3 linked regions of the Homo sapiens genome follow. The protein of the gene in region 1 purifies or fractionates together with the protein of each later gene. This does not show direct contact. Each region holds a gene or a part of one and is shown in the gene's direction. Other genes may lie near its edges. The genes, in order: DUSP21, MYO1B and ACP3.

Region 1 (3,026 bases):
AAAATAGTGTCTGAAATTATTTTGTTAATTGTACTTAGTTTTAAAGTTTAAGAAGTGTATACTTATGAAATAAGTAGACTCCAATACTAGTTTAGGGCCTCCACATTACTACATAGATTACAAAGCTTCTCCGTTAGCCCAGCTGAGCTGCCCCCAACAAACAGTTTTCATATTTATTTAGTATTCGTGTTCTATTTTCTTCCAGATAGCTTTGTGGGGACTGACAATTTAAGTAATGCAAAATAATTTGATTATGACAACTGAGAAAAGAAACGTGTGTTGTGTTTTGAGGTTATCATTTCCTTGACCATCATAAGCAGCCTGGTATCTATTTCATCTTTGTTCGTAATCACAGCACACCTTTGAACACATACCAAAATGATGATGGAATGAGAGCAAAGTATGTGAGTCAATTGGCTACTCTGTGAAACAATTTGTTAGTTTTAGGCTATAGTTCTTTTCAATTTTCAGCCAAATTCTATAAAAATCTTAGCTGGAAGGAAATGCAAATGTCAGGTTACATTTTAGAAATTAATTTTTGGGCTGAGTGCTGTGGCTCGTGCATGTAATCCCAGCACTTTGGGAGGCCGAGGCCGGTGGATCACCTGAGGTCAGGAGTTTGAGACCAGCCTGGCCAACATGGTGAAATCCTGTCTCTACTAAAAATACAAGAATTCGCCAGGTGTGGTGGTGCGTTCCTGTAATCCCAGCTACTCGGTAGGCTAAGGCACAAGAATCACTTGAACCCAGGAAGCAGAGGCCTGGGACTCTCCAGCCTGGGTGACAGAGCAAAACTGTCTCAATTTTTGGCCCAATTACCATGTAGCATTAACTTGTTTCAGAATGTTTAATATTACTGGGAAGACAGCATCGGTAGTGGTCAAAGTGATTTGTAGTTCACAAAGCATGTAGGCATTTTTTTTTGAAGAAAGTAAACAAAATAATTTGAACTGTTGTTTCAGGTAATAAAATAGACTCATGCGGTAAGTCATTTGAGCTGTATGTACAAATGGACTATGACACAGCTAAATTAGTCACAACTGTCCACCACAGGCCAACTTCAAGATAAAGGGCTATATATCAGTTAGCAATGCTCTCTTACAACCAGCCCTGATGTGTTTGTAAGCAGGAAAATAATTTTATGGTTACAATCAACAAAGAAGTATCAGGCCAGTCCACCAAGCCCAGCCAAATCCCATATCTCGCTCCAGTTTTATAGAGATTAGCATATCACATGAGCCAAATGCTGTTCCCCAACTTAGAATGTGATATTGCTATTTTGCAGGGAAAGTGTAAGCCCTGTTCTGCAACACTGATGAAATAGAAGTATTCATAGATCTTGTTTAACGTGGTCCAATAATTGAAACATAAAATAGATATCTTGTAACAGAACATTTTTAAAAGTCAAGAAAGATAAGAATTAGGCCTTGGAAAATAAATGACTATGAAGAAAGATAAAAAGAAAAGAGACTGGGGTGTCTCTGAAGACCCTGCTTAGAGGCCCTGTCCTCCTTGCGGCAAGCGGCCATTGCCATGGAAACCGGAGCCGCAGGGCTATCTGTCCGGGATTGTGACGCCCAGATGGGAGTGGTGAGAGGAGACAGAAAGAGGGTGGTGGCCGATAGCTGGTCCTCTTTCTCCAACACCTAGCCTGAGACTTGGCGGCGCGGCTGCTATCCTGAACTAGCTTGGTAAGTGTTGTGTCCCGAACCAGCGTAGAGAGACCTCGGACCAGCCGCCTTGATGACAGCATCCGCGTCCTCCTTTTCATCATCTCAGGGTGTCCAGCAGCCCTCCATCTACAGCTTCTCCCAAATAACCAGAAGCTTGTTTCTCAGCAATGGTGTGGCCGCCAACGACAAACTCCTTCTGTCCAGCAATCGCATCACCGCCATTGTCAATGCCTCGGTGGAAGTGGTCAACGTATTCTTCGAGGGCATTCAGTACATAAAGGTGCCTGTTACCGATGCTCGTGACTCGCGTCTCTACGACTTTTTTGACCCCATTGCTGATCTTATCCACACCATCGATATGAGGCAGGGCCGTACGCTGCTGCACTGCATGGCTGGAGTGAGCCGTTCCGCCTCACTGTGCCTTGCGTACCTCATGAAATACCACTCCATGTCGCTGCTGGACGCCCATACATGGACCAAGTCGCGCCGCCCCATCATCCGGCCCAACAACGGCTTTTGGGAACAGCTCATCAATTACGAATTCAAGCTGTTTAATAACAACACCGTGCGCATGATCAACTCGCCGGTAGGTAACATCCCTGACATCTATGAGAAGGACCTACGTATGATGATATCAATGTAAGCCATCCCGGCCAGCCCCTGACATCTGCCATCGATCTTGCACCAAGACTGAACTTGAACACTGACATTTTGTTAGTAAAGAAAACCGGATGGTGCCTTGTTAAAGGGCAAGAAAAAAGGGAGGGGGTTGGAGTTTTGAACGTAGTAAGCCTTACCTTAATAGAATTAAATTCATGAAACATAAGATAGTGAAAATATTTTTTATATTGTGAGGTCAAGCTATTGGGGCCTGGCTGGAACCAGGGTGGGGCAAGTAATGCTCAGCTCACATAGACCTGCCAGCAGCACCCAATACATGTGGCAGACCTGGAATCCTGAGCCCTGCCAGAGGCTGACTAACCCAGGAGTGAATCCCCTAGAATCTCACCCGGTTCTTTCCAACCCAAAGTCAAAGCCTTAGACATCTTGGCATCCCTTGCACTTCTCCCAGTAAGTGCCAACCTAGTGGATAAGTGGCTTTCATTCAAGCTGTGCTCCAGGAGCTCTGGAGGAGTCTCAGGCTACCCTTGCCCACCTTCAATCACAGTGGCCCATCTCTGGTTTTCTAGATCGGATTTATACATTAGTTAAAAAAAAAAAAACTAGTTTTTTAAAAGACCATTCCACTCCATAAAGTTTAAAAATATTGTATTTTTTTGACTGCTGTACTTGATGGCAAGTTCTCAAGGTGTCTTTGGTGATCTCCCACCGGCCTTTGTGAAAAGGGACATA
Region 2 (3,658 bases), on another chromosome or scaffold:
AATTGATATCTTAGTGATAAGTGTACAGTTAACCTTTTACAAAAATTAGTTTGTTTGGGAAAAAAAAAATTGCCCTGATTCTGAATGTTTGCTTTGGTTACTTCTGTCCATTTAGAGGCATATTCTAGGAGAAGAGGCTTGATTCTCCTTTCATATACAGATGCTGCTTAACTTATGATGCAGTTACACACAGATAATCCATCATATGGGTTATGAGTGATTTCTATCTTGATTGTTCCATGTGATGAGATTATTATCAAAGTCCTGCCCACCAAATGCCATGATCACCTCAAAAATATATTTGAAATAGGTTTAAGGTTTCATTTCCAACTTATATTTAGGACAGATGCAAGCGTAATGTATAAAATAAATTGAAGTCAATTTTTATGAAGTTGTCATATGTCATATGAAGTTGAAAATATCATAAGTTGAAAATGCATTTAATACACCTAACCTACTGAACACAATCACTTAGCCTAGCCTACCTTAAACATGCTCAGCACACTTACATTAGCCTACAGTTGGGCAAAATCATCTAACACAAAGCCTGTTTTATAATAAAGTGTTGGATATCTCATGTGGTTTATTGACCACTGTACTGAAAGTGAAAAACAGAATGGTTTATGAGCACCACTGTAAAGCTGAAAAACCCTAAGTCAAACCAAGTCAGAGACCATCTGTATTGCCTACTTAGAACCACAGTTACATGTTAATATTAAGTGTTCTATAGTTTTCTTCTAAAGTGATTGCCCTGGATCTGTTCTTTCCCAGAAGGCCTATTGATTTTCTTATTCTCTGCAAGAAATGAAATTTTTCTTTAGAGCAGGTGATGGTAATGATTTCAGCTCTTTTCACTGCCACATATTGTTTGAAGGCGTTAGTAAATCCTTTGTGAGCAGCTGTTAACTTTATATTAACAGATTAGAAGAAATTGCCTTTTCCTTCACATGAGGCCATGTACTTGAGTCTTAGCTGTTGTTCTTATGAGTGATTTCTGTCTTGATTGTTCCGTGTGATAAGATTATTATCAAAGTCCTGCCCACCAAATGCCATGATCACCCCAAAAGTGTATTTGAAATAGGTTTAAGGTTTCATTTCCAACTTATATTTAGGACAGATGTAAGTGTAATATATAAAATAAATTGAAATCAATTTTTATGAAGTTGTCAGCTACTCCTTAGAATCAACTGACCTGTTTCCTTTTTTTAGTGGTACTTTCATTTGAAACTATTTCTAATGTGCAGGAATTTTTTTCCTTTAGTGTTGGGCAACCATTCCAAGGGGCTTACCTGGAAATCAACAAGAACCCCAAGTATAAGAAACTCAAAGATGCCATTGAAGAAAAGATCATCATTGCTGAAGTCGTGAACAAAATTAACCGTGCTAATGGGAAGGTAAAAATGCTAACCTTGAAGACTGATAAGAAGTACCTATTAGTTGGGATAGTCACCCTGTTTTCTGAATGTAAAAATTTGCATTTCATGTTCTCAGTAGAGTTAACTATGAAGGCGGCTATTTCCCCTTACCTTTAAGCTTAGGTGGAATTTTGCTTGTTCTCTGACATTTTTATGAAATAAAACATATTATTTATGTTCTTTACTGCGTTCTTGGTTTACATAGGTATGTTTGTTGAAGGATATTGGAATTTTTGCAAATAATGCCTTAAACTCATGGACCATTTTTGAGTATTTGTGATCATTGGTTTTATACTATTTTTTATTTTGATTTAGAGTACATCTCGGATTTTCCTCTTAACAAACAATAATCTCCTTCTTGCTGACCAAAAGTCTGGACAAATCAAGTCAGAGGTTCCATTGGTGGATGTGACCAAGGTATCAATGAGCTCACAAAATGATGGCTTCTTCGCCGTCCACCTCAAAGAGGTAAAGGTTCAACAGAAGATTTCTGTGCTTAATCTCTCAGCCATTGATTTAAAAAATTTCCATATCTGATAATCCTATCGCAGTTTATATATCTGCCTTGCTAATTTGCAAATTTTGGATATTCACCCCTATGTAAAATCTCCGACTCAGTTTTTCAGTAATTGAATAAAGTTAATCACTTTTATTGGCCAGTTTACTTTACTTTTTGAGACTAATACATAGAAATATCAAGATGTTTTAAATTTTGTTTTCTCCTGTTTTTTCTTCTATGTATCAACTTAGTAAATGTCTTAATGTTCATCTCTAATCTGGGGGTTTACATTAAAGGATACAACTAAAATAAAATAACCGCCAGTTAATTTTAACCTAAATAATTTTTAGTGTTCTGTGCCTTTAGCTTAACCAGGACTCCTGGCTTGGATGCAGTGGTTACATGTAGGTTCTGGAGTTGGTCTCACTCACTTTATGATAATTTTGGCCAAGGCATTTAATTTGTGTGTGCCTACCTACTTTTTCTCATCTTTAAAATGGGGATAGTAAGAGTGCCTACTTCATAGCATTGTTGTAAGGATTAAGGATTAAATGAGACACTGGAGGAACAGGGCCTGTCACATAACACATAGTCACTGAATAAACAAAAGTTAACAAATATTGATCATATGTAGGGACATGTGTCTAGCTAATAATGTTACTCTCTGGCCAACCCTAAACTTAGAAAAATCCCCAAAGCTTCCCTTAGCCTGTTTACCCTACTTTGGATCTTAACTTAAAGGGGGCATATCAAATACTAGGACAGTGATTCTCAACCTCAGTGACACATGTAAACAGCTTGGGAACTTTAAAAATTCTGATGCCCAGGCCATACCCCTATGAAATCAAATTAGAATTTCTCAGAGGGGGCACAAGCATCATGTTTTTTTTTTTGTTTTGTTTTGTTTTTTTTTTGAATAAACCCAGATGATTCCCTTGCACAGCTAAGGCTGAGAGCCACTGCCCTAGGATATTTGTTGGAAGTGTTGTCATTAGGGTTTTAACCAAATCACTGAAAAGTTTTTTAATCAAGTCCTTCAGAAGAGTTGCGGGATAGGTCCATGCTCCTCAAACCTGAATGTGTAAACCCATACCTGGAGGTTGCGTTGTGGTTTCATATTCACTGGGGCTGTGGTAGGGCCTGAGATTCTGCTTTTCTAGCAAGCTCCAAGTGATGCACATGGTGCTTCTGCTGCATCCACCGACTTTAGGTAGAAGGGGATTAGGTAACCTTACTAAAGTGCTCTGAGCAAGTTGGAAGAAACACTGCTTTTGTCATTATTGTTTACCTTGGGAGAATGGATTCCAGGATCTGATGTTTTAAAGAGACTGTAAGTATGTTTTTAGCCAAGCCTGTAAATATTGACCTTCTAAGGTATCTTTAATTATGACCGACTCTTGGTTTGTCCTTGCAGGGCTCAGAAGCAGCTAGTAAAGGAGACTTTCTCTTCAGCAGTGATCACCTGATTGAAATGGCCACCAAGCTCTATCGCACAACTCTCAGCCAAACCAAACAGAAGCTCAATATTGAGATTTCCGATGAGTACGTTCATGTATTGTTTGAAAACCCTTTTTCTCTTTCAGCTTTTTTGTTTTAGTTCAGCTCTCGATCTCATTCATTAATACAACTACTTATTAAGTACCAGGTATGTGTCTAGTAGTTGTTCCACATGATAAATGGGCAGTGAATGACACTGACCAAGTCTCCAACCTCATGTACCTGACATCCTAGTGGAAGAGACCAG
Region 3 (3,658 bases), on another chromosome or scaffold:
CTTCTGAAAGTCAATACCACTACTTATCACAATATGAAGTTCTTTTAGAAAGAAATGGCAGGACAAGAAAGTCTGGCCCTACTAGTTCTTGTGAGGTGAAAAAGGATAAGTCAACAAAGAGGACAGTCATATAAATACACATACATTTTTCTTCCTTTTTCTTTGCTACAGAGTGTTCACAATTTCACTTTACCCTCCTGGGCCACTGAGGACACCATGACTAAGTTGAGAGAATTGTCAGAATTGTCCCTCCTGTCCCTCTATGGAATTCACAAGCAGAAAGAGAAATCTAGGCTCCAAGGGGGTAAGTATTAAAAAATGAGAGGAGCATATTGGATTTGTGGTTGAATGATCCAGGTCTGAGTCATTCCCTCCACTAATCAACTGTGTGATCTCAGACAGTTCACTTAATCACTCTTGCACCAGCTTCCATTCTGCAAAATGGGGATATTAATGATACCTACTTCATAGACAGTGAGTATTAAAATGAATGTATGTATTCAAATGGCTTAGAGCAAACAGTACCTGGTACATAATACACTGTCAATAAATGTCATATGTTAGTATAATCATAACTATTACTCACTCAAGCCCTTAGTTTTCTATCTGGAAAATGAAAGCTAAAGCTAAATGATCCTTTCCATCCCCTCCAGATCAAAAATCAAGGATCTGTGTCTGAGCCACATGAAAATCAATTGTGTCTTGTGGCCTATATGATGAATTTTTCAAGTGGGAGGTATGACAAAAGTGGCCTGTTTTCCTGAAACCCTGAGTGGTAGTCATTGTGAAAGCCGATAAAATATATTTTTCAGGCTAATTGTTATATTTTTCAGACCAATTATGTGCTGTTAAAATATGTTGCAATTGACAAGTTTATAACACAGCTTGAAATTTTTCATTGACATTGAAAGCTGTTGAGATTTATTTATCAGTGATGCCTCTTCTTGGTTAGAACTGGCTCTTCGTAGCACAGGACACCCTGTCATATGAAGGCAGACCCAGGCAAGAGGATGCTGGATTCTTGTAATCAGGATAAGTGGATGGAAGAAAAAAGTCAGGACCAGCAAAGACAAGGACAGATGTTGGGGCTTATGAGAGAAACTGGATGGGCAGGCCAAGATACCAAATGAGGTGTCAGACTTAGATGTGGTTATCATAGGTATTAAAACTAGGGATAAAGAAGAAGAGAAAGTTCATCATGTCAGGTTGACGTAATGAGGAAAGTCCAAGCCACAGGAGATGGTCCAAGTCAGGCTGACACACATATTCAAGGCATTTTGAGATTAATACAATCACATCATGATTCCAGCCATTGACAGACACTATTCACCACAGCATCAGGACAAGTCCATCAAAATCCCAAGAGAATGCATAGAGGCAAAGCATATTAGGGCTGGACCAGACTGGGAGGTTGTTCACTGAGGCTACTTAACTAGGGAAAAAATTCAAATCACTGACCAGAAAAGGAATCAATTATAGCTAGAAAAGCAGGGCTGCACACCAGGTATAAAGAGTGAGGCAAGCTGTAACCAGGGGAATGAGGTATGAAACCAGGATGGTCAGGAGCAAATTCATGTGAGATGAATAAAGTAGGTTGGGGCAAAAAATTTAGGACAGTGGCCATTAACGACATGAGGTTGTTGTAGATCTGCTATTACAAAAATCCTGATTGCATGGCACAGAGACAGACTTGATAGAAATGTGCAAGTCCTTACTTCACATTAAACACATGAGCAACAAGATCCAGCCTTGAGGAAGGGAGAGTCTCCAGAGAGGAGTCTTAGATGGAAGCTGGAGTGTTGGAAAAAATTACCAGGCGGGATACAGACTGTGTCTATGGGCAGAACCCAGGAAGAAGCTCAATCTTAAGTGCTTAACAACAAAAGATGTAGAGGGTGCCTTGGAAGCCACATAAGCACTCAGCCTCATTTCTGGCCCACCAGGTGCCAGCAGTGTGACTCAGTTGCAAGCCCCATCAAATGGTGGAAGCGGGACTCTTGATTTATTTCCCCCAACCTAGTTATGGTGGATTCAGGCACCTAGTCCCTCACAACTCAAAGTGCAGTCTACTTTTCAGCATCGGCATCAACTACCACCTGGCTAGAAACACAGGCCCCACTCCCAAACGAGTTGAATCAGGATCTGCATTTGAATAAAATCCCAACATGCTTTATACCAGACAGGAGTTGACAGTAGTCTAATAGTAGATGTAGGGATGTGTATGTATGAATAAGAAATGGAGTTGCTCCACTTTCCTCATGTTTCCTCTTTTATTTCCCTTGCCTACTAGAAGATTACATTTGGGAGAAGCCACTTCCCCTCTCTGGATCTCTGTTTCACTACCTATGAGGAGATTAAACTAGACTGTCTATAAGAGTCCTTCTCTGAGTTGTTCTCTGATCTTGGATTCTAAAGGCTGGCACTTGTATGAAACCAGCTGTCCTGCTTTCTGGAAAAAGTCCAGCGCCATTGTTAAGCAGGAAAATTTCTCCTGTGTGGTTCTGCCAAAACAAAAGCTCAGACTATTATTCAGATCTGGCTGGGCAAGAGAGATTTGTCAACTACATGTTTATTGAATGATGAAACAGCTGCACACATTCCTGCACAGAAAACACACATTGTCTAGGTGACAAAGAGTAATGTGGACACATCAGGGCCATCTTCTGACCTTTGCTAGTTTTTTTGTTAGTTTGTTTTGTTTTTGTTTCTTTGTATTTTTTGTTTGTTTTTGTGTCTGTTTTTGAGACAGGGTCTCATTCTGTCCTCCAGGCTGGAGTGCAGCAGCATGATCACGGCTCACTGTAGCCTTGACCTCCCAGGCTCAAGCGATCCTCCCACCTCAGACTCCCAAGTAGCTGGGACTACAGTCATGCACCACCATGCCCAGCTAAATTTTTTTTAAATTTTTTGCAAAGACAGGGTCTCCTTATGTTGCCCAGGCTAGTCTTGAACTCCTGGGCTCAAGCGATCCTCCACCTTGGCCTCCCAAAGTTCTGGGATTATAGGCATGAACTACTGTGCCCAGTCTAGAATTTTTATTTCATCATTTAACTTCAGGGGTGACACTGTTCAGTAAGACACACACACATACACACACACACACACACACACACACACCAAAAAAATCCCTGGGGCAAATTTAGGATCATATGGCTGGTCATATCAGTGAAAAGAGAGCTCTTCTTGCTCTAGGCCAGAGGTTGGCAAACTACTGCCTGTATGCCTAATCCAGCCCACTACCTGGTTTTGTAAATAAAGTTTTATTGAAATACAGCCACACTCATTCATTTATGCATTGTCTATTGCTGCTTTCATGCTACCACCGCAGAGCTGAGTAGTTGCAACAGATTTTTTAACCCACAAAGCCTAAGACATTTACTCTCTGGACTTTTACAGAAAAGTTTGCCAACCTCTGCTGTAGACTAGAAATGAAGGAAGCAAAGTTTATGTCTTCAGGTCAATGATATTTTTGTCTAGTTTACGAAGATTTAATAAAGGATACAACAGATAACTTTGAAGCTAGCTTTCCACGATAGCATGTTCTAATGATTACAAATAAAGGTTTTGACACAGGACATGCTAGATTTAAAGCCCTCCTTCTCTGCTTGCAAGTTGTATAATCTAATCAAGTTTCTGAGCCTCTCCAAGCCTCAGTTTC

The links.
Region 2: the proteins of DUSP21 (region 1) and MYO1B purify together in Homo sapiens (affinity purification with mass spectrometry; one large-scale study listed by BioGRID and IntAct). This does not show direct contact.
Region 3: the proteins of DUSP21 (region 1) and ACP3 purify together in Homo sapiens (affinity purification with mass spectrometry; 2 studies listed by BioGRID and IntAct, with this or other methods). This does not show direct contact.

What each region holds. Positions count from the first base shown.
Region 1 is NC_000023.11:44,842,390-44,845,415, forward strand, and holds DUSP21 (dual specificity protein phosphatase 21), read left to right. Parts: upstream 1-1,631; 5' UTR 1,632-1,743; coding exon 1,744-2,316; 3' UTR 2,317-2,499; downstream 2,500-3,026. UniProt on the Homo sapiens protein: Protein phosphatase component of the sperm flagellar doublet microtubules. May act as a regulator of sperm motility by mediating dephosphorylation of sperm doublet microtubule proteins.
Region 2 is NC_000002.12:191,412,787-191,416,444, forward strand, and holds part of MYO1B (unconventional myosin-Ib), read left to right. Parts: intron 1-1,261; coding exon 1,262-1,394; intron 1,395-1,730; coding exon 1,731-1,883; intron 1,884-3,328; coding exon 3,329-3,456; intron 3,457-3,658. UniProt on the Homo sapiens protein: Motor protein that may participate in process critical to neuronal development and function such as cell migration, neurite outgrowth and vesicular transport.
Region 3 is NC_000003.12:132,344,756-132,348,413, forward strand, and holds part of ACP3 (prostatic acid phosphatase isoform PAP precursor), read left to right. Parts: intron 1-171; coding exon 172-304; intron 305-3,658. UniProt on the Homo sapiens protein: A non-specific tyrosine phosphatase that dephosphorylates a diverse number of substrates under acidic conditions (pH 4-6) including alkyl, aryl, and acyl orthophosphate monoesters and phosphorylated proteins.